4 linked regions of the Homo sapiens genome follow. The protein of the gene in region 1 purifies or fractionates together with the protein of each later gene. This does not show direct contact. Each region holds a gene or a part of one and is shown in the gene's direction. Other genes may lie near its edges.

Region 1 (9,355 bases):
TGCCCAGGCTGGATTGCAGTGGTGCAACCATGACTTACTGCAGCCTCGAAATCCTGGGTTTGAGCGATCCTCCCACTTAAGCCTGCCAAGCACCTGGGACCACAGGTACACACCACCATGCCTGGCTAATTTTTCTTTATTTTCCTAGAGACATGGTCTCGCTATATTGCCCTGGCTGGTCTCAAACTCCTAAGCTCAAGCAATCCTCCCACCTCAGCCCCCCAAAATGCTGGGATTACAGGCGTGAGCCGCCACACCTGGCCAGTAAGGGTCTTTTGAGTGGCTGTAGGTCATTGGTTTTTCTGGACCCCTCTTCCAACTTACATGACCCTGAAGATTAGGGTTAGCATAAGTTACACCTCATATTGGCTGCGGCTGGCCTTAATTATCTCTCCAGGCCTTCTGATCTCCTGCAAACTTAGATGTATATATATTTATATGTATTTATAACAATTCAGGCAGAACAGGGAGTTAGATCTGTAACTGAACAATCGATTGAGATAACTCACTACCTTTGGACTAACTTCTTGCAAACTTTTTTTTTCAGAAGGAGTCTCCCTCTGTCACCCAGGCTGGAGTGCAGTGGTGCGATCTTGGCTCGCTGCAACTTCCACCTCCTGGATTCAAGCGATCCTCCTGCTTCAGCCTCCCTAGTAGCTGGGACTACAGGCATGCACCATCATGCCTGGCTAATTTTTTTTTTTTTTTTTGAGATGGCGTCTCACTCTGTCGCCCAGGCTGGAATGCAATGGCGTGATCTCGGCTCACTGCAACCTCCGCCTCCTGGGTTCAAGCGATTCTCCTGCTTCAGCCTCCCCAGTAGGTGGGAGTACAGGCGCCCGCCACCATGCCCAGCTAATTTTTATATTTTTAATAGAGATGGGGTTTCACCATGTTGGCCAGGATTATCTCAATCTCTTGAACTCGTGATCTGCCCGCCTTGGCCTCCCAAACTGCTGGGATTACAGGCATGAGCCACTGCACCCAGCCTAATTTTTGTATTTTTAGTAGAGAAAGGGTTTCACCTGTTGGCCAGGCTGGTCTCAAGCTCCTGATCAGAAGTGATCTGCCCTCCTCGGTGCCTCCCAAAGTGCTGGGATTATAGGCGTGAGCCACCATGCCTGGCCCTCTTGCAAACTTCTTGATGTTACAGTTCTTATGCCTTTTTTCTGTTGTGTTTTTCTCTGAACTGTGATCAAAATAAGTAATTTTAGGGGGAGCTGTTTCTTCTATTTCACCAGCAAGTTGTGTATAAAGAGACTTTGCAGCTTTTACTGGTTGCATGGAATAGAGCTTGTAGGTACTAGTCTATGGCTAAAGAATGGGGAAGAGGGCCAGTACACTGGCTCACGCGTGTAATCCTAGCACTTTGGGAGGCCAAGGCAGGTAGACTGCTTCAGCCCAGGAGTTCGAGAGCAGCCTGGAAACATGAACCCCATCTCTATTAAAAATTTTTTGTTGGCTGGGCGTGGTGGCTCACCCAGGAGGCAGAGGTTGCAGTGAGCAGAGATCACACCATTGCACTCTAGCCTGGGTGACAGAGCAAGACTCTTTCTCAAAAAAAAAAAAAAGGAATGGGGAAGAGGCCAGGCATGGTGGCTCACACCTGGGAGGCTGAGGCGGGCGGATCACTTGAGATCAGGAGTTCAAGACCAGCCTGGCCAGCATGGTGAAACCCCATCTCTACTAAAAATATGAAAATTAGCCAAATATGCTCACTTGAACCCAGGAGGCTGAGGTTGCAGTGAGCTGAGATCGTGCCACTGCACTCCAGCTTGGATGACAGAGTGAGACTGTGTCTTTTAAAAAAATAAAGGCCGGGTGCCGTGGCTCACGCCTGTAATCCCAGCACTTGGGGAGGCCGAGGTGGGCGGGTCACCTGAGGTCAGGAGTTTGAAACTAGCCTGGCCAACATGGTGAAACCCCTGTCTCTACTAAAAATAGAAAAATTAGTCAGGCGTGGTTCTACGCACCTGTAATCCCAGCTACTCGGGGTGAGACAGGAGAATCGCTTGAACCCCGGACGCGGAGGCTGCAGTGAGCTGAGATTGCCCCACTGCACTGCAGCCTGGGCGACAGAGCGAGACTCCGTCTCAAAAAATAAATAAGAGAATGGGGAAGCTGACCAATGAAGGTAGTGGATTAGTGGCAGTTTCAGTAACCTGGACCAAGAGTTCTTATGTTTTATGGGTTGTAGACCTCTTTGAATCTAATGAAAGCTGTAATCGTCTCCCCCAAATGCTCAATACCCACAATTTCAGATTCATTGTTAGGGGTTTAAGAATCCTTCCTGAAGTATACAATATATGGGTTAATGGACTACACGTAGGACCTGTGGCCTAGCATCACATCTTCCCAGCACAGAATAATTATCACCCAGGTACATGTCTTTCCCAGTGACCTCTTAGGCCATGGACCTCCTAATTCTCACCCTCAGAACCCCAGAATTCTCTTTGTGTTCTGGTCTCCTTCTCTGTGCAGGTTGAGCGCATTGAGAAGAGATGTCTGGAGCTGTTTGGCCGAGACTACTGTTTCAGCGTGATTCCAAACACGAATGGGGATATCTGTGGCCACTATCCCCGGCACATCGTGTTCCTGGAGTATGAGAGTTCTGAGAAGGAGAAAGACACGTGAGCATCATGTGACCGTAGTGTACATGTCTGGGGAGTCCGTGGCAGCTAATCCCTGTGGCCAGGAAGTCTGTAGCTGGGCAGGGCAGAATCACTTTCCCCAGGTGTTAATCCTTATTGGCATTTTTATTTACTTCAAGGTTGGACAAGTCAGACTGGCAAGGTGGCATGGCATAGAATGAGGGGTTGGGAGTAACAGCCCTTGATTGCTGTTTCACTTCCACCCTAGAGCTCATTGTCCTAAGATAGCTGACTTCACACTTCACTTCTCTGAATATCAGTGTCCCTTTTTTAGAGAGTGTGAGTGGGAGGTACACTGTGTAAAGACAGGCTTACCAGCGTTTACCGTATGTAGCACTTGAGAGCCTAAGGTCTAGAGTCAGACTGCTAGAGTCAGACTGTCTAGAGTTCACATCCTGGATTCCCCTGTTGCTGGCTGTGTAACTGATGCTGGGCAAGTTACTTAACTGCTTTGTCCTTAGTTTTCTTATTGGTAATTCTCTACCTCATGTTAATTAGTCCTTTTAAGGACTAACTAAAATTTTAGAAAGTGGTAGTGCAGTCCAGATGATAAATGGGGCTGATAAAAGCCTGACATGTACGTTGTAAGAATTAGAAATAAAAGCTACCATTTATGGTGGGCCTACCAAGACCTGAGTACCTTATGTGGGTTAACAGTTTATACCAGAGCAGACACAGAATGCTTGGTGCAGGTTGTGGCCTGTAGGTAGTCAGTAAATGGTATAGTTATTTGATACTGATAAGTAATCACAGCATGAGGCTCTAGGAAGTGGTATATGTTGATCTCAAAGTTTGCTCTCCTAATCTCCCTACTTCCTGCTGATTTTAAGGGAATTTCAGGAGCCGTTGTCAGCACTATCTGTGAAATCCTGGCCCCGTGGGTGAAATGTTGTGAGGAGTACCGCAGCAGTCATGCTGCATAGTGCAGTAGCCCCTTGCTACTCAAAGCAGGGCTAGCAGTGCATTCAATAACTTGTTAGAAACGCAGAAGCTCATGCTCCAGAGCCACTGAGCCAGAATCACAGCAGAACAGGGTGTCCAGGTGATTCGAATGCACTACCAGGTTTGAGAAGTGCTGCCGTAGGCCAACTGGGGAAATGGTTAATTCTGCCTTGTGTTTATGTGCCTGGGAAGAACTGGAATTGGAAGGATGAGCAGGAGTTTCCCTGAAAATGTCCTTAGGGATCAACTCATATAGGATCTTGATCATCAGGCCAGGGAGTGTGAACCTGTGGGTTGTGTGTGGGTATCAGTGGTTTTATTGTGCTAGGAACCCCTAAGCACTTACTAAGATTATGGATTCTCGGCCTGGCCTAGTGGCTCATGCCTGTAATCCCAGCCTCCTTTGGGTGGATCACCTGAGGTCAGGAGTTTGAGACCAGCCTGGCCAACATGGTGAAACCCCATCCCTACTAAAATTACAAAAACTAGCTGGGCGTGGTGGTGGGCTCCTGTAATCCCAGCTACTCGGGTGGCTGAGGCAGGAGAATCGCTTGAACCCAGGAGGTGGAGGTTGCAGTGAGCCGAGATTGCACCACTGCACTCCAGCCTGGGCAACAGAGCAAGAGCAAGACTCTATCTCAAAAAAAAGATGACAGATTCTAGAACCTCTCCTGGGCCTTCTGGAATCAGAATTTCCAGTCTACATTCTGTGAGAGCTCCCTTGATGTCTTTTTTTTTTTTTTTTTTTTGAGACAGAGTGCTCTGTCACCCAGGCTGGAGTGCAGTGGCACGATCTTGGCTCACTGCAACCTCTGCCTCCCGGGTTCAAGCAATTCTCCTGCCTCAGCCTCCTGAGTAGCTGGGATTACAGGCGCCCGCCACCACGCCCAGCTACTTTTTTTGTATTTTTAGTAGAGACAGGGTTTCACCACGTTGGTCAGGCTGGTCTCGAACCCCTGACCTCATGATCCAGCCGCCTCGGCCTCCCTAAGTGCTGGGATTATAGGTGTGAGCCAGCACACCCGGCCTCTTGATGTCTTAAATACACTATAGCTTGAGAACCGCTGCTGCAGGCCATGGGGAGCCAGAGAAGGTTTACAGCAGAGGAACAATCCAGTAGGAGGAGTTTAAGCACTAAGCCTTAGTTTCCTCATCTGTAAAGTGGGGATGTCTATAAGAGTGCCCATCTTGGCCGGGCGTGCTGGCTCACACCTGTAATCCCAGCACTTTGAGAGTCCAAGATCATGAGGTCAGGAGATTGAGACCATCCTGGCCAACATGGTGAAACCCCGTATCTACTAAATATACAAAAATTAGCTGGGTGTGGTGGCGCACGCCTGTAATCCCAGCTACTCGGGAGGCTGAGGCAGGAGAATCACTTGAACCCAGGAGGCGGAGACTGCACTGAGCCAAGATCGAACCACTGCATTCCAGCCTGGCGACAGGGTGAGACTCCATCTCAAAAAAATAAAAAAAAAAGAGTGCCCATTTCACAAGGTTGTAGTGGGGTTCTCCAAGAAAAGAGTGTTAAGGGCTCTTGTAAATAGATCACAGAAACAGTATTACATCCTCAGTTATATAACCTAAGAACTTGGGATCGCCAAGCCTAAAGAATTGGGGTTTGTTATGGCCCTGTTATTTATGGTTCTTAGCTCTTCCTTAATTCCTCCTTCCAGAATTAGGTAAGCTTAGTTTCTTTTTTTTTTTAAGACAGAATCTTGCTCTGTTGCCCAGGCTGGAGTGCAGTGGTGCCATCTTGGCTCACTGTAACCTCTGCCTCCCAGGCTCTAGCGATCCTTGTGCATCAGCCTCCCAAGTAGCTGGAATTACAGGTGTGTGGCACCACACCTGGCTAGTTCTTGAATTTTAGTAGAGATGGGTTTTGCCATGATGGCCAGGCTAGTCTCAACTCCTGGGCTCAAACAATCCGCCTGCCATGGCCTCCCAAAGTGCTGGATTACAGGTGTGAGCCACCGCGCCCAGCTGGGTAAACTTAGTTTCCGTAAATCTTTAAGCTAAAGTTTCTGAACAAGAGGGTTTTGTTTTGTTTTGTTTTCTTTGTTTTTGCCTTGCCATTCTCTTCGTTCCCCTTCTTCCTACCCTCTTTGGTGCTGGCTGGCTGGTGGTTTTACCTCTGTGCCCTGATGATGACATTCTGATATTAAGCTCAGCTGTAATCAAGGTGGGTTTTTTTGTTTTTGTTTTTGTTTTTAATTAAGACGGGGTCTGGAATGCAGTGGCACAATCATGGCTTGCTGCGGCCTTGATCCCCTGGGCTCAAGTGATTCTCCCACCTCAGCCTCCCAAGTAGCTGGGAATATGGGCACATACCACCACTCCCAGCTGATTTTTTTTAATTTTTAGTAGAGACCAGGTCTCGCTGCATTGCCCAGGTGGGTCTCCTGAGCTCAACAGATTTCCTCACCTCGGCCTTTCAAAGTGTTGGGATTAGAGGTGAGAGCCACCGCACCCAACAGAGTGGTTCTTTTCTATGTTGATTTTATGAGTGAATCAACTGGGGATCTTTCTACAATGCAGAGATTCAGAAGACCTGAGGTGGGCCTGCGATTTGGCATATTCTAACAAGCTCTCAGGTAATACCAAATGTTACCCTTCAGTAACATAATAGTACATTGAGAAACGTAGTGGTGGTTGCCTTGTAAAAGCTTTTCCTGGAAGGAAACAAGTTTAGTGTTGATCCCTTAAAGAGACTGAAACTAGTATTTGTTGAGTACCTCTGTTTGGCAGGTGTTGAGGTTTTACTTGCTAGCTTAAGCCCTACAACTATTCAGTGAAGAAGACAGTATCACCACTCTTTTTTTTTTTCAATTTGATATGGAGTCTTGCTGTGTCGCTGAGGCTGGAGTGCAGTGGCGCAAGTGATCTTGGCTCACTGCAACCTCTGCCGCTCAGGTTCAAGTGATTCTCCTGCCTCAGCCTCCCTAGTAGCTGGGATTACAGGCGCGTGCCACCATGCCCGGCCAATTTTTGTATTTTTAGTAAAGACGGGGTTTCAACATCTTGGCCAGGCTGGTCTTGAACTCCTGACCTCGTGATCCACTGGTCTCGGCCTCCCAAAGTGCTGGGATTACAGGTATGAGCCACCGCGCCTGGCCCTCACCACTCTTTTATAGATGAAGTTGAAGCCCAGAGAAGTAATTTGCCTTTGCCGAAGATCACAGAGGTAGTAAGCAGAGTGGGGTTAAAAGCTGTATTTCCTGACTCTGTACCTGTCTGCCTTATCTTTCACCACCACGGCTCTCCCACCTTGTCTAGCAGAACCTCACAGTTAGGCCAAGGCCACTGTGGAACATGATTAACCTTAGAGGAGCTTGTTGGAGTTTGTTTTTACTTTTCACTCCTTGCAAGGCCTTAAAGTGTTACTGAAGTGATGTTGAGTGGGTGATGCCTGCTTGTTGAAAGGGGGGACTTCGGGTATGTTTGGGTGGGAAGAAATAGCATTTTTTGCTTTTTTACTGTCTGGCTTGGCTGTTACTATGATGCTGAATTAAACTGAATAGACTGAATAAAAAATAGACTGAATTAAACAGGGTAGAATTGGATTTAAGCAATGTTTTGGTCCTGTTAAGGAACCTCTCCAATTTGGTTCATCATCTGGGAATAGAAGCCTGGACAGGGATCTCTGAATAGCTAAGACATGTTTGTCAACAGTGTTCGTTCAGCTGCTGCTGTGTAGTAGACCTCAGGGATCAAGTTGGAAGCCAGATAGATGAAGTCCTTACCAGTAGGTCTAGTGGGAAACAGAGTCCAATAAAGAAGCAATAATTGTTAATAAAAGCTGGAATTAGGGGAAGTACAGGTGAGGCCCTGCCGGATAGTGGTTAAAACCATGGGCCCAGTGGCTACCCACAGGGTTTAGAATCTCAGCTACCCTGTTTACCTGTTCTGTGACTTTGGGCTAGAGATTTCATCTCATTAAACTACCTCATCTGTAAAATTGGGTAAGTGAGGACTGAGTGAGATAATGTGGGTGTAAGCTCTACTTTGTGCCTCTTATCTATTAAATAGTAGCAGCAGTAACATTTATCTCAGGAAGTTGTGGGGTACATTATAGGAACAAGCCACCCAGTTTGGTAAGTGTGGTGCCTGTCTGGGAAAGCTTCCTATTGGAAATATGTGATAACAGCATTTTCTTCTGTATTTGAAAATAGTTTGGCTGGGCATGGTGGCTCACGCCTATAATCCTAGTTACTTGGGAGGCCGAGATGGGCGTTTCGCTTGAACCCAGGAGTTTGAGACTGAATTAAACTGAATAGACTGAATAAAAAACAGACTGAATTAAACAGTCTGGGCAACATGGTGACACCTTGTCACTACAAAAAATACAAAGCATTAGCCAAGCATCGTGGCATGTGCCTGTAGTCCCAGCTACCTGGGAGTCTGAGGTGGGAGGATCACCTGAGCCCAGGAGGTCAGCTGCAGTGAACCATGGCGCCACTGCACTGCAGCCTGGGCAACAGAGGAAGACCTTGTTGGGAAAAAAACAACAAAATCTCACTACCTGGTAACATCTTGCCAGAAATTTCAGTGCATACATTACAAATGTAAATACAGAAGCCTACATTCATCCCTTCGAATGTGAGTATTATGTGCCAGACACAGCTCAGTGCTTAGCACTGCAATAAAAGAATCCTAAGGACAAGAGATAATAAAAACAGGAAAAAGTGAGAGAACAGAAACTGAATTGGTTCTTTTTTTTTTTTTTTTTAAGACGGAGTCTCATTCTGTTGCCCAGGCTGGAGTGCAGTGGCGTGATCTCTGCTCACCGCAACCTCCGCCTCCTGGGTTCAAGCAATTCTCCTGCCTCAGCCTCCCGAGTAGCTGGGATTAGAGGCGCGTGCTGCCACGCCTGTCTAATTTTTGTAGTTTTAGTATAGACGGGGTTTCACCATGTTGGCCAGGCTGGTCTTTACCTCCTGACCTCAGGTGATCTGCCGCCTGAGCCTCCCCAAGTGTGGGATTACAGGCATGAGCCACTGTGCCTGGCCAGAAACTGAATTGGAGCTTGATGTAGGGGAACCGGTAAAGGAACCACTGGCCGACCTAACAAGAAAAGGTGGGTCATTACATTAAAAGATCCTCCCTAGAGGAAAATGCTGATGTGTCCTCCACCAGGGGTGTTTTGTTTGTTTGTTTTTAACAGAAGTTTAGCCTGAGAAATCCACCTTGGTTTTGAGGCTACAACTCAACCTGGGAAAATCAGATGTAGGCATTTAGGGTTCAGAGGGCTGGTATGAGCTAAGTGAGAGTCGGTTGCAGCAGATGGTGCTGACCAGATATGTGACATCGGCCACGGGCCAAGTAAGTGGGAGGAAGGCCACTGTGGCAGTACTAAAGGTGCTCGGTTTTATATTCTTGTGGAGTCTAGTTAGGCAATTAATTGGTACCAAGGTGCCTTTTGATTTCATAGAGAAACTGGGTGAGGGGAAGGCAGCACACTCTGGTTCTCTGTGAGCTTGTGTGCCTAGGGCTGCCTGGTGGGTTGCTGCCACCCTACGGGCACTTTGCTTTTTTTTTTTTCCCCCAGACGGAGTCTCGCCCTTCGCCCAGGCTGGAGTGCAATGGCGTGATGTTGGCTCACTGCAAACTCTGCCTCCCGGGTTCAAGCAGTTCTCCTGCCTCAGCCTCCTGAGTAGCTGGGATTACAGGCACGCGCCACCACGCCAGGCTAATTTTTTTGTATTTTTAGTAGAGATGGGGTTTCACCATGTTGGCCAGGCTGGTTTTGAACTCCCAACCTC
Region 2 (5,226 bases), on another chromosome or scaffold:
TTTTTTTTTCTTTTTCTTTTTCTTTTTATTTTTTGAGATGGAGTCTCACTCCGTCGCCCAGGCTGGAGTGCTGTGGCGGGATCTTGACTCACTGCAACCTCTGCCTCCCGAGTTCAAGCGATTCTCCTGCCTCAGCCTCCCGAGTAGCTGGGATTACAGACGTGCAACACCACACCCAGCTAGTTTTAGTAATTTTAGTAGAGACAGGGTTTTGGCATGTTGGCCAGGCTGGTCTCGAACTCCTGACCTCAGGTGATCCACCCGCCTCGGCCTCCCAAAGTGCTGGGATTACAGGCCTCAGCCACGACACCCGGCCCTTCTGATTTTCAAAGTAATATTTAGTGTTGGGAAAAAGCAGAATTATACTAAGAATAAAATTAAATCAACCATAATTTTACCACCTAAGGGTTGCTACTGTTAGTATTTTGTTGTATCTCCTTTGGGGTTTTTCGGTGTTTTTAGAGGAGTTGGGAGGAGTCTTACTCTCTTGGTCTGTTGCACAGGCTGGAGTGCAGTGGAGTGATCATAGCCCACTGCAGCCTTGAACTCCTGGGCTCAAGTGATCCTCTTGCCTCAGCCTCCTGAGTAGCTGGGACTACAGGCTTGAGCCACTGTGTCCAGCTAATATTTTAAATTTTTTATACAGATGGGGGTCTTGCTGTGTTGCCCAACGTGGTTTTAGCTCCTGGCCTCAAGTGATCCTCTCACCTTGGCCTCTGAAAGTGCTGGGATTACAGGCGTGAGGCACTGTGCTCAGCCATCTATATCCATTTTTAACATGAATTAGATAACTACATTTTGCTCCACTCCTTTTCACTTAATCAGTTGAGGTTGCCTTTTTAAAACTATGATACAGTAATAAAATTGGTCTAAAAAGGCAGATAACAGAAAAGGGCAGTTTTATTTCTGTGACGTTACATATACCTAACACTGGTTTCATACAACTTGCTCCACAATGCCTTTTAAGTACTAAACATATTCAGAGGTCAGGGCTAGAAGATAACAAAATCTATTTAAGAGTTAGAGCTGAGAAGATTTCAGAAGCTTTATAAAGGCATGCCAGGAAATGTCTACAATATTTCACAGCTTGGAGGAAGCAGGCAAAAAGAAAATCAAAACAAAGCTTCCAAATCTTTACTTTGCACGGAGGGGAAACCTATCTCCTGTGATTGTAGTTGTATTTTGTTGTATAAATTGACATAAGAATATTCCTGTTGAATCGTGATTTTATCCATGGCAGTGTTTTTTCATGAGTTATTTTCCTTGTGTGTTTGTTGCAGACCCCTGTAAAAGAGCCCAACAGTGAAAATGTAGATATCAGCAGTGGAGGAGGCGTGACAGGCTGGAAGAGCAAATGCTGCTGAGCATTCTCCTGTTCCATCAGTTGCCATCCACTACCCCGTTTTCTCTTCTTGCTGCAAAATAAACCACTCTGTCCATTTTTAACTCTAAACAGATATTTTTGTTTCTCATCTTAACTATCCAAGCCACCTATTTTATTTGTTCTTTCATCTGTGACTGCTTGCTGACTTTATCATAATTTTCTTCAAACAAAAAAATGTATAGAAAAATCATGTCTGTGAGTTCATTTTTAAATGTACTTGCTCAGCTCAACTGCATTTCAGTTGTATTATAGTCCAGTTCTTATCAACATTAAAACCTATAGCAATCATTTCAAATCTATTCTGCAAATTGTATAAGAATAAAGTTAGAATTAACAATTTTATTTTGTACAACAGTGGAATTTTCTGTCATGGATAATGTGCTTGAGTCCCTATAATCTATAGACATGTGATAGCAAAAGAAACAAACAAAAGCCAGGAAAACACTCATTTTCGCCTTGAATATGTAAATGGGATTAATTTTGTCCTGTGCCTTATGTGGAAAGGAACTTCTTTGGTTTTCCTTTTTTGTTCTGGTGGAAGCATGTGCAGGAGACATATCATCCAAACATAAACCATTAAAATGTTTGTGGTTTGCTTGGCTGTAATTTTCAAAGTAGTTAATTGAGGACAAAGGGTAATGCAGAAGTGATAGCTTTGGTTTGCTGAGTCTTGTTTTAAGTGGCCTTGATATTTAAAACTATTCCTGCCACCATTTCTTCTCCTTGGCCACTTCTTCCTTGCGTCTCCCTGCATGCTGCTTTATTTGCTTCTCCCTCCCCAACCACCTCATGGTATATTTAAGAGTGAAAGGGACAAACTAGTAGGTTTGTCAAGTTTAATATAAAGCACTGATGTAACTTGCTAGGTAAACGGAAAGATAAGTTCTAACTGCCTACTATCCAATGTCAGTTAATTGGTGTCTTCCCCCCTCATTTGCTCTCTTCCCTAAAATGTGTCCCAGATGCCTTCATTTGCTGTTTTACTTCTATGTTCTGCTTTTCCTCCTCTCTTTGTTCCCTTCCTGTCTATCCATTGAGTTTATGAAATGGAAGAGTTAACTGCATGCACTAGTGTTTGGAGGGTGTTGTGGTTTGTCTTTCTAATTAGGTGTATAGCCTATTCACTTTCCTAGAATAAATCTCTTAACCTAAATTTGAGTAGTCTGCATTTTGGCAACTCCTCTAGCAGCTTGGTAGCCTAGTACAGGTTGTTTTTTTAAAAAAGGAAAAGCAGGAAGGAGGAGTGAATTTTATTAACATGTTTGCCAAATGTATTGAGATTTGGCCTCTGAAGAACACTTTTTCAGTGTTAAGTTTCTTTACCTTAAGATTCAGAAATACTTTAGAATATTATTAATTTTAAGTCCTGTCTTTACATCCTTTTGGAAAACTTGTATTACCATGGGTTTGGAAAAAGGACAACGAAAGGCTTTTCATGTAAAGATAAGATCTTTAGCTATCTCTAACCCTGTCCTTTTTTCACTGCATTTTTTCTAGTTTTGCTTCATTGCTTATCATTAGGATAGGGTAAGTGAAGTTTGCTATGCTGCTAGCATCCTAAGATGATACCTTTGTTGAAAGAATTGTGAATAGCATGATTCATTTCTAGCAGAGGCTGAGTTTAGGACAGCAGCTTCCATTGAGAAGTCTTTCTGTGTCGTGAATAGCATTTTAATGACCTCTTGGCTCACATAAGCAAACAACATAGGGACGTATCTGCTATGAAAATCCACAAATTTTTCAGATAGTGCCCTAAAAACAATTTTATATGCCTCACTGGTTGTTATTCTTAGGTTATTCCCACACTTGACTTTATCATTGTTTACTACTAGTAAAAAGCAGCATTGCCAAATAATCCCTAATTTTCCACTAAAAATATAATGAAATGATGTTAAGCTTTTTGAAAAGTTTAGGTTAAACCTACTGTTGTTAGATTAATGTATTTGTTGCTTCCCTTTATCTGGAATGTGGCATTAGCTTTTTTATTTTAACCCTCTTTAATTCTTATTCAATTCCATGACTTAAGGTTGGAGAGCTAAACACTGGGATTTTTGGATAACAGACTGACAGTTTTGCATAATTATAATCGGCATTGTACATAGAAAGGATATGGCTACCTTTTGTTAAATCTGCACTTTCTAAATATCAAAAAAGGGAAATGAAGTATAAATCAATTTTTGTATAATCTGTTTGAAACATGAGTTTTATTTGCTTAATATTAGGGCTTTGCCCCTTTTCTGTAAGTCTCTTGGGATCCTGTGTAGAAGCTGTTCTCATTAAACACCAAACAGTTAAGTCCATTCTCTGGTACTAGCTACAAATTCGGTTTCATATTCTACTTAACAATTTAAATAAACTGAAATATTTCTAGATGGTCTACTTCTGTTCATATAAAAACAAAACTTGATTTCCAGCTGTGTGGTTTGGTTTTCATTTATTTATGGAATTGGAAGATTACTTCTGAAAAAAATGTGGAATCGCAAACTCAAAGAGTTGACAAAAATGGGAAATCACTGTCAACCTATGGAAAACTGGAAAGGCAATTTCAAGAACTGTCTTTGCTGAGAAACTACATTAAAAAATAGAATTATCTCTGGGATCCTAAAGCGGAATCATCCTTGTGCCAAAATAGGAGATGCCACGATCCTAATCACACCTGGCTTACACTAGTTGGATGTGCCTAAGGCCACTACAGCTGAGGTCACCTGATTCCTCAGGGGGACCAAGCTGGGCTCCTCATACTGGAGGGTAAATCCTTGTTTTAGCAGCAGCTGGCCTCTTACTAAGAAACAAAGTATTGGCCAGGTGCGGTGGCTCATGCCTGTAATCCCAGCACTTTGGGAGGTCAAGGCGGACGGATCACGAAGTCAGGAGATGGAGACCATCCTGGCTAACGTGGTAAAACCCCGTCTCTATTAAAAATACAAAAAAATTAGCCGGGCGTGGTGGCGGGCGCCTGTAGTCCCAGCTACTCGGGAGGCTGAGGCAGGAGAATGGCGTGAACCCGGGAGGAGGAGGAGGAGGCTGCAGTGAGCCGAGATAGCGCCACTGCACTCCAGCCTGGGCGACAGAGCAAGACTCCGTCTCAAAAAAAAAAAAAAAAAAAAAAAAGTATTGGCTGGGCGCTGTGGCTCACGCCTGTAATCCCAGCACTTTGGGAGGCCGAGGCGGGTGGATCACCTGAGGTCAGGAGTTCAAGACCAGCCTGGCCAACATGATGAAACCCCGTCTCTACTAAAAATACTAAAAGCCGGGCGTGGTGGCGCATACCTGTAATCCCAGCTACTTGGGAGGCTGAGGCAGGAGAATCACTTGAACCCAGGAGGCAGAGGTTGCAGTGAGCCGAGATCGCACCACAGCACTCCAGCCTGGGCTATAGAGCAAGACTCCTTCTCAAAAAAAAAAAAACAAAAAACAGTATTTCCTGCTTTTGTTATACATAGCAACAGCCTTGTCTTTATGTGTAGGGAAAAGAAATGTTTGATCCTATATTCAGGCTTTATTAGTCAATAATAAAGATAAATATTTGTTGACAAGATTGTCTCTGCTGAAAGTATATGTAGAGTTTTTCTCAGATGCAGTGATTTTAAGAATCACATGGAGTGTTTTTAATGTTCTATTCCTTCCCCCCAACATACTTGTTTTGTTGGGACCTACAATTCTGCCTTTGCTGGGTGCAGTGGCTCACGCCTATAATCCCAACACTTTGGAAGGCCAAGGCGGGTGGATCACCTGAGGTCAGGACTTCGAGACCAGCCTGGCCAACATGGTGAAACCCTGTCTCTACTAAAAATACAAAAATTAGCCGGGCATGGTGACACATGCCTGTAATCCCAACTACT
Region 3 (9,355 bases), on another chromosome or scaffold:
TCTGTTTTTTCTTCTTCTTTTCTTTTTTTCTGAAAGAGACTCTCACTCTGTTGCCCAGGCTAGAGTGCAGTGGCACGATCATAGCTCACTGCAGCCTCCAACTCCTGGGCGCAAGTGATCCTCCTGCCTCAGCTCCTGAGTAGCTGAGACAAACGGCACATGCCACCACACCAGGCTAATTAAACAAATTTTTTTTTTGTAGAGATAGAGTCTTATTATGTGGCCCAGGTTCTTCTTGAACTCCTGGCCTCAAATGATCCTCTCTCCTGAGTCTCTCAAAATGCTGGGATTACAGGCATGAGCCACCCTGCCGCAGTGTTTCTTCTTTTTGTCAAAGCACTTAAGATCTTTTTGTCATGAAGTTAGTCACAGTAGGGTTACTTTTTGTTTCATAGTTAATGACCAAAAATTTCAGGAGGAAAAATTACTAAGACCTCTTAAGTATCTTTTAAAAATATGTTGAATGCTTGAAAGCTTTTTTCAGGCAAAGAGCTCCTTTCTATCTGAGCCATAAGAATATGCTAAAAACAGTTCATAAGGATGGAATCTTCAGTTCCCATGTGTGACATTCTCAGGTGCATACTTGCAGTGTGGCCATGTCAGCTATGTGGCAGAGACCTAGATTCACTAGTAGTGTGACAGGCTAACTGTAAGCTGGTTGTCTGCTTGCCTCCAGTGTGTTCATTCTGTGAATGAAATGTGTATTTCTTTTGTTATCTAAAATGTTCTTTCTCCCCGTTTCTAGCTCTCGTGCTCATTCCCCCATGATCGCCGTAGGAAGTGATGACAGTAGCCCCAACGCAATGGCCAAGGTTCAGATTTTTGAATATAATGAAAACACCAGGTCAGTCCTGCTTTGGTTTTAATAATTGTTCAGAATTGCATTTAATTTTTTAAAATGTTATTTCTTTATTCATTTACAGAATTATGTGTCATTCATCATATGTTTGCTGATTTACTATAATATACCAAGTTCTGTGCTAGGCTGTGATAGCACAGGCATGAGTGATAAAGAGGAGAAAGTAGACCAGCCTGGCCAATATGGTGAAACCCCGTCTCTACTAAAAGTACAAAAAATTAGCTGGGTGTGGTGGCAGGTGCCTGTAATCCCAGCTACTCGGGAGGCTGAGGCAGGAGAATCGCTTGAACCCAGGAGGCGGAGGTTGCAGTGAGCTGAGATTGCGCTATTGCACTCCAGGCTGGGCAACAAGAGCGAAACCCTGCCTCAAAAAAAAAAAGAGGAGAAGGTAATTGATCTCCCAGTATGATGTACCATCTTGCAGTGAAACAAAAAATAATAGTAAAAAAGGGTGATGAATCTTATGAAGTGGAAGAATTAGGGTGCTAAAGAGCTTATACCTGGGGAACCTAATCTGGTTTAGGGGCTAGGAAGGTTCACCTAGAAGATGACCTATAGGGTGAGTAGAAGTTAGCCAGACAAAGAGGGCAGAAGCACTCCTGGTGGAGAAAACTGCATGTGGTAAGGCCGTGAGCAAGAGAGAGGGAGTATATTTATACTGTTGTTGGAACATGCTGGGCAAAAATGAGTGTGGAGAGAAATAGGCAAGACTTGTATCTATAAGAAGTAATGTCCATTGTTTCAGTTTTATCTTACAGGTGATGTGAATAGGGAATAATGGGATCAGATGGATCTTCTATAGGTGTGACAAGTGTTTTGGAGGGAAACATGGTGGATTCACGGCTAGGATGCTATGAAGACAGTCCAGGTGGGAGAGTACGTGGCTTTGGGATAGTAGTAGCAGTGGCATGGAGATAAGTGGACAACTTGAGAATAATTGAGAAGTGGTATCAATAGGATCTGGTGATTGATTGGATTTGAGAACTGAACTGAGGAAGAAGGGGGAAGGTGTTAAGATGATTTCCAAGGTTCTGGCTTAAGAGTTCAGTGTGTAATTTCAATGTGTGTAATTTCTTGAGATAAGGAACTCTGGGAACAAGGCAGATTTGGGTAGAGTGTGGCAGCATGTGAAGGTAAGTTAATTTTGGTCATGCCGAGATACAAGTGTCTGCAAAGCTTCTGAGAGCCAAAAGCAGTGTCTCAGAGGCACACTACTCAGTCTTACAGGAGAAGAGAGCACTTGTCAGGTGATCAGATGGGCTTCGCAGGTACTAGACAAAATTCTTGAGTCTAATAGTCAGATCTTAGGCAGGGCCAGCAGTAGAGAAGGAACTAGTGTTACTCCCGTGGGCTCTGCAATTCCAAATGTTACCATCTGGGTTACCAAGGGGATCTTACACCTTCTACCTTCCTAGATTGTTGGTGTCTGCAGAGAGGCTCAGTCTTCAACAGTGCTGTCCAGTAGAATGTGCTGCAGTGATGGGAAATGGTCTTAGAGATTTTCATGGAGTTTTAAGCTGTAAAAACTATGAGCCCTATTAATAGCACATTTTATAGAGGCTTCATGAAGTGTTGGGCTTGTTAAAGTAAATTTCAACCTGAGCTGAGCAGAATGAATATGTAGACATAAGCCCAAAAACGTAAAAGGTGTATCATTGGCCACGCGAGGTGACTTATGCCTGCCATCTCAGCACTTTGGGAGGCTGAGGTGGGTGGATCACTTGAGTCTAGGAATTCAAGACCAGCCTGGACAACATGGTGAAACCCTTTCGCTACAAAAAGTACAAAAATTAGCTGTGGGGATGATGGCGCATGCCTGTAGTTCCAGCTACTTGGGAGACTGAGGTGGGATGATCACCTGAGCCTGGGAGGTCGAGGCTGCGGTAAATCAAAATTGCACCACTTCACTCCAGCAGTGTCAAAAAAAGATTTTTTTCTAAAACATAGGAAAAGAAAATATTTCATAAGTAAGATTTGAGTAAAAAGATAAATAACTTGCAGTTAGTTCTGAAAGAAAATACAGGCAAATAGAAATTACCTATTTTTTTTTTTTTTGAGAGTCTCACTCTGTCACCCAAGCTGGAGTGCAGTGATGCAATCTCAGCTCACTGCAACCTCTACCTCCCGAGTTCAAGTGATTCTCCTGCCTTAGCCTCCTGAATAGCTGGGATTACAAGTGCGTGCCACCACGCCTGGCTAATTTTTGTATTTTTAGTAGAGACGGGGTTTCACCATGTTGGCCAGGCTTGTCTTGAACTCCTGACCTCAGGTGATCCACCCACCTCGGCCTCCCAAAGTGCTGGGATTACAGGTGTGAGCCACCACGGCCGGCCTAGAAATTACCTAAGTATTTCTAAATTACCTAAATAATCCAATGTTAAAAATAATCTGAGATTGCATTTGAGTCTAGTCTCTTAGCTAACAGAATAAATCTAGACTGGGGGATTCCCTGTATTATGTCATGTGACAAGGAGCCTGAGGGTGGAGCAGTTCTGGGGTTAGGTAGTGACTCAGTTGCTCAATGATGACATCAAGGACCTACCTAAATATTTTCCACTTTTTTCTTGCTGTCATGCTTAGTACACTGGTGATAGCTCCCTCTTATGATCACAAAAGAGCTGCACAATGTCAGGTTTTACATGCTAATACAAAGAAGGGTATTCTAGAAAAAAACACCTTTCCTAGAAGTATCTTAGCAGGCTTCTTATCAGGTGCTGGCGGCTGGAGTTTGGTCATCCAGCCATGCCTTAGCTGCAAGAGAGTGAGACAGCAAGTGTCTGGCATTTTCAGCATCAAAAACGAGGGGAAGTGGTGTTGGGGAAAGAGTGTCTGCAGGTGGGGGTGTGTGCTATTGACTTGGGAAGTAATCAAACCTATTAAGTTCAGCACTTTTTGGAGTTCTGTTGCTGGTTCTTTGAGGTAAGCATTGTTTGAAGGTTCTTATTTAGATTGAACGTGGAGGAGATGTGATAGTGGACTATGTAGTATCGTTATTAATACCTGTTTATCTTTTTCTCTCTTTTTTTTTCTTTGAGATGGAGTCTCACTCTGTTTCCAGGCTAGAGTGCAGTGGCGCAACCTTGGCTCGCTTCAACCTTTGCCTCCCGGGTTCAAGCGATTCTCCTGCCTCAGCCTCCCCGGTAGCTGGGACTACAGGCACCCGCCACCATGCCCAGCTAACTTTTGTATTTTTAGTAGAGATGGGGTTTCACCATTTTGGCCAGGATGGTCTCCATCTCTTGATCTTGTGATCCGCCCACCTCAGCCTTCCAAAGTGCTGGGATTACAGGTGTGAGCCACCACGCCCGGCCTGTTTATCTTTTTCTAAGTAGTATCACCATTTAGTAGACAGGAGACATTTGCCAAATTAACCAGTGTTGGATATATTTGTTTTTATTTGTGAGTGAAAATACTAAAACAGATCTAGGATTGATAGTGATAATAGAAGTGCCATGTGTTTATATAGGTTACCGGGCATTTTTATGTGTGTTATGAAGTTTGAATCCTACCAACCACCTTGTAAGTAGAGGAGACAGCTTTTATTAACACTGTTTTACAAATGAGAAAACTGAGACCAACAGAGTGAATGACTAGTCTAAGGTCCAGAGTCAGGACCAGAAACAAAGTCTTTTTTGTTCATTCTCTTTATTTACACTCTCATTGAGGATCTTATTTGGCTCCTTCTGATAGGAGAAGCTTTAGATAACCTTAATTATTTTTATTTTTATTTTATTTTTTTTTTTGAGATGAAGTTTCACTCTTGTTGCCCAGGTTGGAGTGCAATGGTGTGATCTCGGCTCACCGTAACCTCCGCCCCCTGGGTTCAAGAAGTTCTCCTGCCTCAGCCTCCCAAGTAGCTGGGATCACAGGCATGTGCCACCACACCCAGCTAATTTTGTAGTTTTAGTAGAGATGGGGTTTCTCCATGTTGGTCAGGCTGGTCTCGAACTGTCGACCTCAGGTGATCTGCCTGCTTCGGCCTCCCAAAGTGTTGGGATTACAGGCGTGAGCCACCGTGCCCAGCCACCTTAATTAATTACAATATATAGCTTGCCTCAGGTAAGAAAAAAAAAATCTCACTTTTTCAACATTTCATAAGCAGCATGGACTGTACTAAGAGCTGAAGGAGCTTACAGCGCCTAGGATATGGATGAGGATGGTCACCTGCTAGAGATGGCAGCACATACCTGCCTGGTAGGGTGAGAAGTTTCAGCTGATGATGTTTGAGCATGAATCTTGAAAGACAGAGGGTGTTCTGCAAGCAGAGAGGAGGCAGGAGCAAAGACAAGGGCGTGGGGTCGAGGCGGTGGGTGGGGAGGCTAATGCAGGAGAGAGACAGGGGAGGGGCAGGCCAACAGGCCAGGCAGATTTTGGAGAGTGGTGCTTGCCAAGTCTGATCTCTATCCTGGCAGCATTTGGACTTTTGCAGGGTCCAGTAGAGTCACAAGGTTGTATTTACCTTTTAGGGAGATGACTTTGGCAGCTGTGTGGACTGGGAGCAGGAACTCAGGGATGAATGCAGTAGCCCACTATGATGTGGAATGAGGACATGCACTGTGGCGTGGGATGAAGAGGGACCGGGGAGACTTGTCTAGGAGGCACCAGCTGTAGGTCACGTGAGTCTTGGTTTCTGACCTAGCTGATGGTAGTGCCACTTGTTGAGATGGGGACTGAGCAAAGAGGAGTGAATGTGGTAAGCACAATTTATTTCAGACATATGTTTGAGGTGCGTTTGGAACATCCAGGTGGGGATGTGTAAAGGCAGATGGATAGAATAGCTGAGATTAGTTGTCTATTGCTGCATGACAGCATTATCACTCAGTGGCTGAAACAGTACAGATTCGGTATTTCAATGTCTGTGGGTCAAGAGTCAGGCCAGACTGGGAAAGACTCCACTTCGGAGCTCACCTGGTTGTTGGCAGCACTCGTGTTCCTGCCACGAGACCCTCCCTTGTGTCCTCACAGCATGGCAGCTGCTTCTGCAAGGCCTGAAAGCAGGAGAGTCTTCTCATGAGGCAGGCGTCACAGGCTTGTGTGTTGTAGTCACACGGGTGTTGTCCCACCACCTTGCCATGTTCCGTCCCCTGGGTAGAAAACAAGCCACGGGCCCCACTCACACTCATGGGGAGGAGCCTCCACAAGGGCGGGACCACCAGGAGGTGCGGGTCATGGGGGCACTTAGAATCTCTCTGCCACAGTACGGGTGTTCCTCCCACTTTACGGAGAACTTGCTGAAGGTCGTTACAGCCTGGATTCAAACACGTTCTGGCTGCAGCATGTGTGCTCTTAGCTCCACCTGTCCTATTTCTGGCCTTTGGTAGAAGGCCAGAATCTATCCCCTGAATTGCAGGGGATAGATTTAGGAATTATTGGTTTATAGGTACTGAAACCATGGGTGTAGAAACCATGCATATTCTGGCCGGGCGCAGTGGCTCACGCCTGAATCCCAGCACTTTGGGAGGCCGAGGTGGGCAGATCACGAGGTCAGAAGATCGAGACCATCCTGGCTAACATGGTGAAACCCTGTCTCTACTAAAAAATACAAAAAAAACAAAAAACATTGGCCGGGCGTGGTGGCAGGCCCCTGTAGTCCCAGCTACTCCGGAGGCTGAGGCAGGAGAATGGCATGAACCTGGGAGGCGGAGCTTGCAGTGAGCCGAGATCACACCACTGCACTCCAGCCTGGGCGACAGAGCCAGACTCTGTCTCAAAAAAAAAAAAAAAGCATATTCTGATTGTGTAGGCCCCAGGAGGGGGCTGAGATTCTGGATTTCCCAGAAGCTCCCAGGCTGCTGCAGACCACACAGTAGAAGCAAGGATGTGGATGAGATTGCTTAGGGTGATTGGATGGGTGAGAAAGATCAAGGAGAGAACCTTGAGGTGTGTACCAGCTTGGTAGAGATTTTAGGAAGAATGTTGGGATGAAAAGAAGGTCAAGTGAAGAATGCTGTAGAAAGGTGGGATGGGGAGATGTCTCCACCCAGTCTCCTACATGCAGGGGGTTAGGTGCTGCCGTTCTGTCCAGGATATTCAATCTTAGAAGAACCTAGTAGAAAACTCTGATCTACCACTGCCTTCATTATCCTCTTATTCTGTATTTATAGATAAAGAAATAGAATTGCAAGGATGAAATAGCCTTTGCATAGTTTCCTTTTATTATCACTTAACTCAATTCCTGCTGGGCGCAGTGGCTCACACCTGTAATCCTAGCACTTTGGGAGGCAGAGGCGGGTGGATCACCTGAGGTCAGGAGTTCAAGACCAGCCTGACCAACATGGTGAAACCCTGTCTCTACTAAAAATACAAAATTAGCCAGGCGTAGTGGTGCACGCTTGTAATCCCAGCTACTCAGGAGGCTGAAGCACGAGAATCACTTGAACTCAGGAGGCGGAGGTTTCAGTGAGCCAAGATTGCGCCATTGCACTCCAGCACAAGAGTGAAACTGTCTCAAAAAAACCTCAATTCCTGTTACCAGCTTTACTTTTTTATTTACATTCAAATACTTAGGCAATGTGTTACTCTTTTCCTAAGAAAGATGTTAGTGGCTAATAAATCAAGCCCTTTTTTATTTTTTATTTTTGCAGTTGAGTCTTACTGTGTTGCCCAGGCTGGAGTGCAGTGGCGTAATCTCAGCTCACTGCAACCTCCGCCTCCTGGGCTCAAGCCATCCTCCCACCTCAGCCTCCTGAGTAGCTGGGACAATGGGTGTGCACCACCATGCCCAGCTATTTCTGTATTTTTTGTAAAGATGGGGTCTTGCTGTGTTGCGCAGGCTGGTCTTGAACTACTGGGTTCAAGCAATTCTCCCACCTCAGCCTCTCAAAATGCTGGGATTACAGGTGTGAGCCACTGTGGCCAGCCAAGACCTTATTGTAATTAAATTTTTATTAAAGCGTTTCGAGCTAAATGTACATTATTAAAGGAGGAAACGTGGGAGGTTGTATTAATTTCCTAGGGCTGCCATAACAAATTACCACAAATCAGGTGGCTTAACACAGAAATGTATTCACTCACAGTTCTGGAGGTCGGAAGTCTGAAATCAAGGTGTTGGGGCTGTGCTTCCTCTAGAATCCTTCCTGGTCTAGTCCAGCTCCTGCTGGCTCCGGGAGTTCTTTGGCTTGTGGCAGCATAACTCCAATCTCTGCCTCTGTGTTCACATGGCTGCCTCCTCTCTGTCTCTGCGTTTCTTCTCTTCTTTTTAAAGAATACTTACTGCACGTTGGATTTAGGACCCACCCTAAATCTCGGATGTCATTCTGAGGTCCTTAATTACATTTTCAAAGACGCTATTTTTGAATAAGGTCACATTCACAGGGTCTGGGGGTCAGGACTTGGACATATTCTTTTGGGGGCTGCTGTTGAGCCCACTACAGAGGTGAGCACTACATGATTGTGAGCAGTGTGAAAAAAAGGTGAGATGCAGTGATGTGTGGATTTTTGCACATTTTATTTCTAAAATGTTAATGTCAATTGTTTTTCCATTAGGAAATATGCAAAAGCTGAAACTCTTATGACAGTCACTGATCCTGTTCATGATATTGCATTCGCTCCAAATTTGGGAAGATCTTTCCATATTCTAGCAATAGCGACCAAAGATGTGAGAATTTTTACATTAAAGCCTGTGAGGTGAGTTTTAGAAGCATTTATGAATTTGAAAATACTCTTGCCTTCTGATTACCTTTGTTTGTGGAGGAGAGAGTAGAGGTAACTATGATTTGGTTTATATTTCTGCTCTGGAAGTTTTACTTAAAAATGTAAACTTTGAAATGTTTTTTAAAAATGGTCTTTTACAGTTACTTTTTTTTCTTTCTTTTTTTTTTTATTGATCATTCTTGGGTGTTTCTCCCAGAGGGGGATTTGGCAGGGTCATAGGACAATAGTGGAGGGAAGGTCAGCAGATAAACAAGTGAACAAAGGTCTCTGGTTTTCCTAGGCAGAGGACCCTGCGGCCTTCTGCAGTGTTTGTGTCCCTGGGTACTTGAGATTAGGGAGTGGCGATGACTCTTAACGAGCATGCTGCCTTCAAGCATCTGTTTAACAAAGCACATCTTGCACCACCCTTAATCCATTCAACCCTGAGTGGACACAGCACATGTTTCAGAGAGCACAGGGTTGGGGGTAAGGTCACAGATCAACAGGATCCCAAGGCAGAAGAATTTTTCTTAGTATAGAACAAAATGAAAAGTCTCCCATGTCTACTTCTTTCTACACAGACACGGCAACCATCCGATTTCTCAATCTTTTCCCCACCTTTCCCCGCTTTCTATTCCACAAAACCACCATTGTCATCATGGCCTGTTCTCAATGAGCTGTTGAGTACACCTCCCAGACGGGGTGGTGGCTGGGCAGAGGGGCTCCTCACTTCCCAGTAGGGGCGGCCGGGCAGAGGCGCCCCTCACCTCCCGGACGGGGTGGCTGGCTGGGCGGGGGGCTGACCCCCCCACCTCCCTCCCGGACGGGGCGGCTGGCCGGGCGGGGGGCTGACCCCCCCACCTC
Region 4 (8,584 bases), on another chromosome or scaffold:
TTGGAAGGCAACTTCTCATAAAAGTAAGTAAGATTTTATGAAATTAGATTATTTTTATTAGAAGTATTTTCCATGAGTTTTAAAAAAATATCACTGACGGTTTTTTTTTCCCTTTAGTTCCCATGGTTCTTCTCCTTTGGCTATTTTTCAAAACAAGGCCCAACACAAAAACAGGTAATTTCTTTTGTATTAAGACACTAAAATAATATTTTTCTTTGTGCAATGACGGTATCATCTAACACTTGACAGGGCACTATGTTTCAGATACTCTTTTAAGTTCTTTATGTAAATTAGATTATTCAATCTTTTCAAACACCCCTTGAATGTAGGTATTATTATTATCTCCATTTTACACATCAGAGAACTGAGGCACACAGAGGCTAAGAAACTTGCCCAAGTTTCTCCAGGTAGTACATGGCCCAGCTGGGATGAGAACCCAGCCATTTAGCTCCAGAAATTGTGTTCTCTTCACTTCCAGAAATCTCAAATATTCTTCTTCCTCCATTTTTCTCCTCTGTTATCTTTTCCTTTGTGCCTCCTCTGCCCCCAGTTTCACTTCCTCTTCCACATACCCTGGATTCCGACGGGGGATCAAGTGAATTTCTGTGTGTCCAGCATCCCCAACAATAGGACTGCCTCATTTTCTACCGTTTGGCTTACAGATCCCAACCCTGGCTCAGGCCTTGGGTCATTAGCTTTCATCTCCTTGACACCAGGCACTCCTGGGGGAAATCCCACTGCTGAACAGATGGTAGCAGCAAGTTCCCGTTTCCCCCTCTGTGGAATGTTAGCATCACTTGCTGATTCTTTTCCTTTTCGTTAGTCTTGCCTCTTATCTCCTCTCAGTGGCTTTCTTCAAAATCTACCCAACTGCAGCTGTCTTCCCTATCTGTAAATTATCCCAACTCCTACCTCACTAAAATAATTGAGAGCACTGTTTTGTATCCCCTCAAATTCCTACTCTCAGACCTATCATCATTGTTCCCATCCTGACCTTCTTTCCTCCTCTCTGGATGATATACTCCCTGTACAAGGCTAATCCCCGCCTGTGCACTTAACGTAGCATCATTGTTCCATCCCGACCTTCTTTCCTCCTCTCTGGATGATATGTTCCCTGTACAAGGCTAATCCCCCGCCTGTGCACTTAATGTAGGCACTGTGCAGGAATGCGCCACCACGCCCGGATAATTTTTTTGTATTTTTAGTAGAGACACGGTTTCACCAAGTTGGGCAGGCTGGTCTTGAACTCCTGACCTCGTGATCCACCTGCCTCAGCCTCCCAAAGTGCTGGGATTACAGGCGTGAGCCACTGCGCCCGGCCTCTTTTTTCTTCTTATTGTGGTAAAATACACAAAACATAAAATGTACCATCTTAACCATTTAAAAATGCTGAGTGGTATTAAGTACATTCATCTTTTTGTGCAGCCATCACCACCATCCATGTCCAGAACACTTTTCATCTTGCACAACTGAAACTCTACACCCGTGAAACAATAACTCCTCATTTCCGCCCTCCCCCAGCCCCGGCAACCGCATTCCGCTTTCTGTCTCTATGAATTTGATGACTCCAAGTGCCTCATGTAAATGGAATCAGTCTTTGTCTTTTTGTGACTGGCTTATTTCACCTAGCGTAAGGTCTTCAAGGTTCATCCATATTGTAAGCATGTGTTCGAATTTCTTTAAGGGTGAATGATTGTCTGTTGCCTGTCTGGATCACATTTTGTGTATCCATTCATTCATCAGTGAACACATGTGTTGCCTCCAGCTTTTGGCTATTGCCAGTTATGCTGCTGCGAACATGGGTGTACAGATACCTCTTCAAGACTCTGCTTTAAATTCTTTTGGGCATATACTCAGAAATGGAATGCTAGACCGTATGTGAATTGTATATTTAACTTCTTGAGGAACCACTAAACTGTTCTGCAGAGCTGCTGCACCGTTTTACCTTCCCACAAGCAGTATACGAGAGTTCCAGTTTCTCTGCTTCCAAACCGACATCTGTTATTTTCTGTAATGGCCGTGAGGTGGTGTCTCATTGTATTTTTGATTTGCATTTACCTGATGATTATTAGTGTTGAACATCTTTTCATTTGCAATTATTGGCCATTTGTATGTCTTCTTTGGAGAAAATATTTTCAAATCATATATTTGACAGAAGATTCATATCCAGAAAATATAGAGAACTCCTAGAACTCAATAACAAAAAACAACCTAATTCAAAAATGAACAGAAGGACTTGAAAATATTTTCTGTTATTCTTTGGGTTGCCGTTTTACTTTGTGGATAGTGCAGGCTTCTGTCTCGTGGTTGGTAGTGCAGGCTTCCATCTCTTGCTTGAACTTTTCGTAGCATTCCTACGGTTTCTTTCTAATCTGTCTTCCCACTGCTGTCCAAGAGATCTTTCTAAGACACAAAATCTGACCTTGTCATTGCCTTCTTTATAAAATGTTCCTGGCCCACTGCTTTGGCAGTGATTCTTAACTGAGATTTCATATATCAGAATCATGGCCGGGCGCAGTGGCTCACACCTGTAATCCCAGCACTTTGGGAGGCTGAGGGAGGTGGATCACTTAAGGTCAGGAGTTCAAGACCAGCCTGGCCAACAGGTGAAACTTCATCTCTACTAAAAATACAGAAATTAGCTGGACATGGTGGTGCACGCCTGTAGTCCCAGCTACTCAGGAGGCTGAGGCAGGAGAATTGCTTGAACTCAGGAGGTGGAGCTTGCAGTGAGCTGAGATCACACCACTGCACTCCAGCCTGGGCAACACAGCGAGATTCCTTCTCCAAAAAAAAAAAAAAAAAAAAAGAATCACCTAGGAAGCTTTTTTCACTGACACATGCCCTCATCTTGCTTCTGGACGTTCTGATTCAGTAGGTCTGGAGTGGGGCCTGAAAGCATAGAGCAGTGGTTCCCAACTTTGGAAGAGAACCCAAAACAGATGACCAGAGACTCTGGTTCGGTTGGTCTGGAATGCAGCCTGGGCACTGGGGCTCTCTAAATCTGCCCAGTGATGCTAATGTGCTGCCAGGGTTGAGAATCACCACTGCGGAGGAAGGAAGAAGGTTCCAGATTTGAGTGGTTTTGGTACCCACCCCTGGAGCACAAATGGCCGAAAGTCCATCTTCAGAGATGTGAGGCCATCCTAGACCCTTCATGATCTAGTTCTGGATAGCACATAGGATTCATTTTTCATCCAACTTTGATTAATTGATAGTAGCCACCCAGAGACTATGCTGGGTCGGACAATGTGTGTAGCCTGAGAGAGGATTAGAACCCATTAGTGTGGGCGCCATAGCAGGAGATGGGACAGGTGTGGCATGTGTGTCTGACCTTGTCTGTACCTCTTGAATTGTATGTTCTGGAAAGGCTATGCTACTGCATCCCTTCTTCCCTTTAAATAATGGGTTCTCCTTTCTGGAATCCATCTACTTTTGGGGTTTTAAAACAACCATTAAAATGTGTTTGTGTGTGTGTATATATACAGTTCAGAACCATTGCCCTCTGCCCTGGTAGATTAATAACACCCTCCTCTGAGTTATGCCTGTATGTTTTAGTTCATGTCACATTGTTATTTAATCTGTTTATCTCTCTCTCCCCCCCTTTCCTCCTACTAAACTGTAAGCTCCAGCAAAGGCAGTAATTATGTCTCAGGGCCTCAATGGTATCTGACCCTTAGTTGATACTTCATAAAAATGTGTTGATCATGATTGAATTCTTTATCACCTCATTCCTAAATTTAGTGATTGTGAAAGATGCTAGGATAAGTCCTCAAGAATTTAGTTTTTTGAGTCGAATTTTTACATCTTTAAGTGGAACAATTATATACCTATACTCCAGGCCCATATTTCCATTACTTGCTGGCTATTTTTGTCTTGTCGCCTCAAATAGGTATCTAAAACCAGATTTCTATATTCTGCCCCCCGATAAAAACTATCTCCAGATCATCTTTATTTCCTCCCTATTTCTTACCACTCCCCTTCCCCCCAACATCACGCCAGTCTTCAAAACTGACAGCTTCAAAGAATTAGTTTTCGCTCCCTGCTTAAATGATGACGGGATATTCTGGCAGATAAAATAATGTTTTCATCTATTGACAATGTCTCACTTGAAATAGAATAGTCGGTTTTACTATGTTCCAGGAGGAAATGACGTATTTATGAAATGCGCCCTTTGCCTTCTCCTTCACAGATTGATGCTGCCTCATTCACGCTGACATTCTTTGGTCAAGGATACAGCCAAGGCACTGGTACAGATAAGAACAAACCAAATATCAAAATTTGTACTCAGGTGAAAGGACCAGGTATTTCACATATCACTTAAGAATGCTTGGGAATTTTATACTCTTAAGCTATAAAGTACAATGCCATTACAATATATTCTTTTTAAAGCTTAATTGTTTTAGAAATACATTTGTACAAATTAAGTAACTTAAAATTATTCTGTCAAAGGAAGATTGAAATTATTGATATAATCCAATTTTATTAGTGCATCCCTCCCTCTGGCTGTTTTTGGAGTATGATTCAGTAATTCAGAATGGCAAATTTTAATTAGTATTAATAGGAAAAGGGATTGGTTGATATTCACCTGTTTGAATCTCATATGCAAGTAGTGTAATTATAATGTCAGTCAAATCTGTGCTCTAGGATTTCTTTAGAGTCTCTGAACACCCTGACATTGTTTGTAAAATATGTATGCACACGTGCACTTTTCAAGGGAAGGGAATGGCTTCTGATAGGTTGTTAAAAGAATGTTGCCCAAAACGTTCAAGAACTTTTGCTGTACATTTTACAGAACTATGCAGAGACAGACAGGTCCACTTGTGAACTGTGGTATAATTACTGTCAGAGACAGACAGGTCCACTTGTGAACTGTGGTATAATTACTGTCAGAGACAGACAGGTCCACTTGTGAACTGTAGTATAATTACTGTCAGAGACAGACAGGTCCACTTGTGAACTGTGGTATAATTACTGTCAGAGACAGACAGGTCCACTTGTGAACTGTGGTATAATTACTGTCAGAGACAGACAGGTCCACTTGTGAACTGTGGTATAATTACTGTCAGAGACAGACAGGTCCACTTGTGAACTGTGGTATAATTACTGTCAGAGACAGACAGGTCCACTTGTGAACTGTGGTATAATTACTGTCAGAGACAGACAGGTCCACTTGTGAACTGTAGTATAATTACTGTCAGCCCTTTTAGGTCACAGGCTATAATTTTTTATTGAGACGGGGTCTCACTATGTTGCCTAGGCTGGGCTCAAGCAGTCCTCCTGCCTCAGCCTTCTAAAGGGTTGGGATTACAGGCATGAATTGCCATGCCTGGCCCACGGGGGATTTTAATCAAGCCAGATGATAGTATGTTTCCATCTTGCCCTTTTCTGAAATTCCCACCTGACTTTTTAAGGTAAGTTGACTGTATTTTCATTATTTGACAGGATTATAAATGCTAATGTTCCGTTTGTTTATAAACATTTTTTTAACTTATGTTTAGTCGTTATTCTTTAAGAAAAAATTGAGAGGATTTTTTTGTTGTTTTTAAGTGAAGTGTGTGAATACAGATAGGGATCGGCTCAGTGTACAATAGAGAAACAAAAAACCTAGGATCATTGGCTTCAATGATTGTCAAGAAGCAGTGCAGTGCAGTGGGTGGAGTGTGGACTCTGGAACCAGCTGCCTGGGTGTGATTTTGGCTCAGTCACTACCTGTTAGTTTGGACAAGTCACTTAACCTCTCTCTCTATGGGATAAAAGTAATATTGACCTTAAATAATTGTTATGAAAATTAAATGAGTTTAATAGACCTAAAGCACTTAGTACAGTTCCTAACACTTAATAAATACTTTCGATATGTTATTTTTGTTAAGTGACCAGAGTATCTATTGAAAAAAATCTGCACACCTAGAGTAAGATATAAAATCTACCATTTGATTTTTGATGTTGTTGAATGGGTACTTCATGATTCCTTTCTTTTTCCCTGATCAACTGTTTTCTGCAGAGGCTGGCTATGTGGCTACCCCCATAGCTATGGTTCAGGCAGCCATGACTCTTCTAAGTGATGCTTCTCATCTGCCTAAGGCGTAAGTTTGGTTTTCTTCCAATTAGAAGATCTTTTTTATCTATGTTATATTTTAGCTTATTTTGATTTGATTTTCAGGCTTTGGGTTTGCATGTAAGCATTTATAGTTCAGTTCCTTTGCTTCAAAAATATAGGTAAATTAAAACTGTGAGAAGGACAGCTTCTTACCAGCCCAGAGTTGGTCTCAGAGGAACAACTGTGGAGGTAAATGAGAGGAGACAGAAAAGTTGGAGAGCCATGAGTTAACTTCAGCCCTTTATAAAGATACCTCAAGTCCAGAGTCAGCCACTCAAAAAAGTCCCTGTTGTTAATAGTATTACTAGGAGCTTCCAATCAGTGCCTAACTATACCCAGCTGGCAGTAGTAACCCTGACTGACACCAGCATAAATGGAACCATGGGATCCTGGCTAGATGATTTTCAGACGTACTGTCTTACTGGAGCATTTAGCTGTCCCCCTAAAACTAGGCCAGCTTTTCAAATGAGCAGAGGCCTGCTGCTGAGAAGTAAACCAGGCATGACCTAAAACAGGATTAATAAAAGTAAAATTTGTATATAGTAAAATCTAATTAAATTTTTTCAAATACCTAGGTCCCCCTTGAAAATATTTAGCATTTATGAATGTTAGCTATTATATTTTTAAAAACTTCTTTTTCATCCAATTTAAGTTCTGTTTACACTTTCATAATAATTGATTATCTAAATTTATTCCATTCGGGTCTTTCTTTAATCCCCCTAAGTCTGAGGACTGTCCTTGTAAACAGCAGCGGTTCTTCGGGGTGATGGCGCACAGTGCACCCACCAAACACATGCATAGAATGGAAACAGTATCTCCAGGAACAGAGCCAGTCTAGATAGGGTTGGCTGTGGTGCAAGTTTCTCCTGACTAATAGCTACTTGCTCATTTGGCTGATTTTAGGAAGGAATCAAAGGTAGCCGTGATTACCATGAAGACTTGGGTTTTCAGGGGTTCTGTAGCAATTTGATAGTGAGGCCTGTGAAATAGGAGACTGGAGAGGAGCTGAGTGCACTGTTTTCTCTTGTTATTGTTTTATAGGGGCGGGGTCTTCACACCTGGAGCAGCTTTTTCCAAAACAAAGTTGATTGACAGACTCAACAAACACGGTATTGAGTTTAGTGTTATTAGCAGCTCTGAAGTCTAAACACTGGAAGAATTAACTGAAGTCATAACGTGCGTGAATTAACAGCTTCTCTATTTGATATTTGAAATTCTTCTGTAAGCCTGTCTGAGTGTATGTGGAAACGATTGTCAAATCTAAAATATCTATATATTAAAAAGTAGGAAATTGTCCTAGCTTACCCTAAATTTCAAATCTGAGTTGATTTTGTGATTTTATTGCTTATAACAGAGAACTCATATTTGACATATTTTTTTCATTGATGTGTTCCTGGTAGATTTTCACGAATGAGCTGGCAGGTCTAATGGGGGAGGCGGCGTCCCAGTCTGTGTTGCAGCAGCATTCTCATCGGGGGTGCGCACACCATCGTTACTGTCGGGCAGTAACTGCCGCTTGCCTTGCCGCAGTAGGAGGGAAATCTCACCTTCCTTCCACATACTGTCTTGAGCCTTTGCTAAATTAAACTGCACTTTTTGCTATTTTTGCCTAGTTTTTCGCCAATCTACACTGATTTTGGACTGTTACCTAAGTTGAAAAATAAAAGGTTGTCAATCGAATGGTGGTTTAATGTTTGGACCTGCCGATGTATTTGTATAGTGGTAGAAACATGCTGCTTAAGTGGCCTAACCTGTTTCTTGCCAATAAGTAGGCTTATCATTTTATCTTTACGTAATTCTATATCTGTGACTAGGTTTTTAAGGATACAGCTTATAAGTTGCTATCAATTTTCACTACCTAAGCAGAATTTTTCTCTAATTTACTTTTTGTATTTTAACTAGGTTTTACATGGAAGCCCTAAAATAAGGCAAAAGACTTTTTCTTTTGTAATAAGCATATAATAAACACGTATATACATAGCAATCATGTTGTTCATTACCTAAACAAGACAGCCACTCCTTTATGGAATTTCTACCAAAAAGTGAGGAACATAAAATATTTAGGAATATTATTTGTGTTGGGAGACCCTTCTGCTCTGCCTGTAAGAAGAAGAGGGGGCGGTATCTAACTCAAAGAGGCCTGTAAGGAGAAGTGGGGGAGGGTATCTAACTCAAAGAGGCCTGTAAGAAGAAGCGGGGGGTATCTAACTCGAAGAGGGTGTTCTTGGTGGTAGTATTCCCCACCCTAACTCTGCTTCCTCTGTCCTGGCCTGGTCATCACAAGATACAGATCCTCAGCTGTGCCCTAACTTGTGGGACCTTAGAAAAGGTTTTATCGGCTGTGAAATTAGAAAGCAGTACAGGAGCAATAGAGCCCACGACTAGCTGCACATCTGAATCACGAAACAGTAACAGGTTCCTCCGTGCCTGCAGCAACTTGCGTTCAGGAGGGCGGGAGGTCGAAGCCTCTGTGTTTTTGATATG

Evidence for each region.
Region 2: the proteins of MTMR14 (region 1) and RAB10 purify together in Homo sapiens (affinity purification with mass spectrometry; 2 studies listed by BioGRID and IntAct, with this or other methods). This does not show direct contact.
Region 3: the proteins of MTMR14 (region 1) and SEH1L purify together in Homo sapiens (affinity purification with mass spectrometry, with the first as the bait; 2 studies listed by BioGRID). This does not show direct contact.
Region 4: the proteins of MTMR14 (region 1) and SCCPDH purify together in Homo sapiens (affinity purification with mass spectrometry; 2 studies listed by BioGRID and IntAct, with this or other methods). This does not show direct contact.

What each region holds. Positions count from the first base shown.
Region 1 is NC_000003.12:9,651,140-9,660,494, forward strand, and holds part of MTMR14 (phosphatidylinositol-3,5-bisphosphate 3-phosphatase MTMR14), read left to right. Parts: intron 1-2,481; coding exon 2,482-2,630; intron 2,631-8,559; exon of another isoform or gene 8,560-8,670; intron 8,671-9,355. UniProt on the Homo sapiens protein: Lipid phosphatase that specifically dephosphorylates the D-3 position of phosphatidylinositol 3-phosphate and phosphatidylinositol 3,5-bisphosphate, generating phosphatidylinositol and phosphatidylinositol 5-phosphate.
Region 2 is NC_000002.12:26,133,658-26,138,883, forward strand, and holds the end of RAB10 (ras-related protein Rab-10), read left to right. Parts: intron 1-1,280; coding exon 1,281-1,364; 3' UTR 1,365-3,797; downstream 3,798-5,226. UniProt on the Homo sapiens protein: The small GTPases Rab are key regulators of intracellular membrane trafficking, from the formation of transport vesicles to their fusion with membranes.
Region 3 is NC_000018.10:12,970,408-12,979,762, forward strand, and holds part of SEH1L (nucleoporin SEH1), read left to right. Parts: intron 1-745; coding exon 746-844; intron 845-5,325; exon of another isoform or gene 5,326-5,475; intron 5,476-8,344; coding exon 8,345-8,485; exon of another isoform or gene 8,486-8,486; intron 8,487-9,355. UniProt on the Homo sapiens protein: Component of the Nup107-160 subcomplex of the nuclear pore complex (NPC). The Nup107-160 subcomplex is required for the assembly of a functional NPC.
Region 4 is NC_000001.11:246,760,054-246,768,637, forward strand, and holds the end of SCCPDH (saccharopine dehydrogenase-like oxidoreductase), read left to right. Parts: coding exon 1-23; intron 24-117; coding exon 118-174; intron 175-4,192; coding exon 4,193-4,304; intron 4,305-6,004; coding exon 6,005-6,086; intron 6,087-7,141; coding exon 7,142-7,247; 3' UTR 7,248-8,084; downstream 8,085-8,584.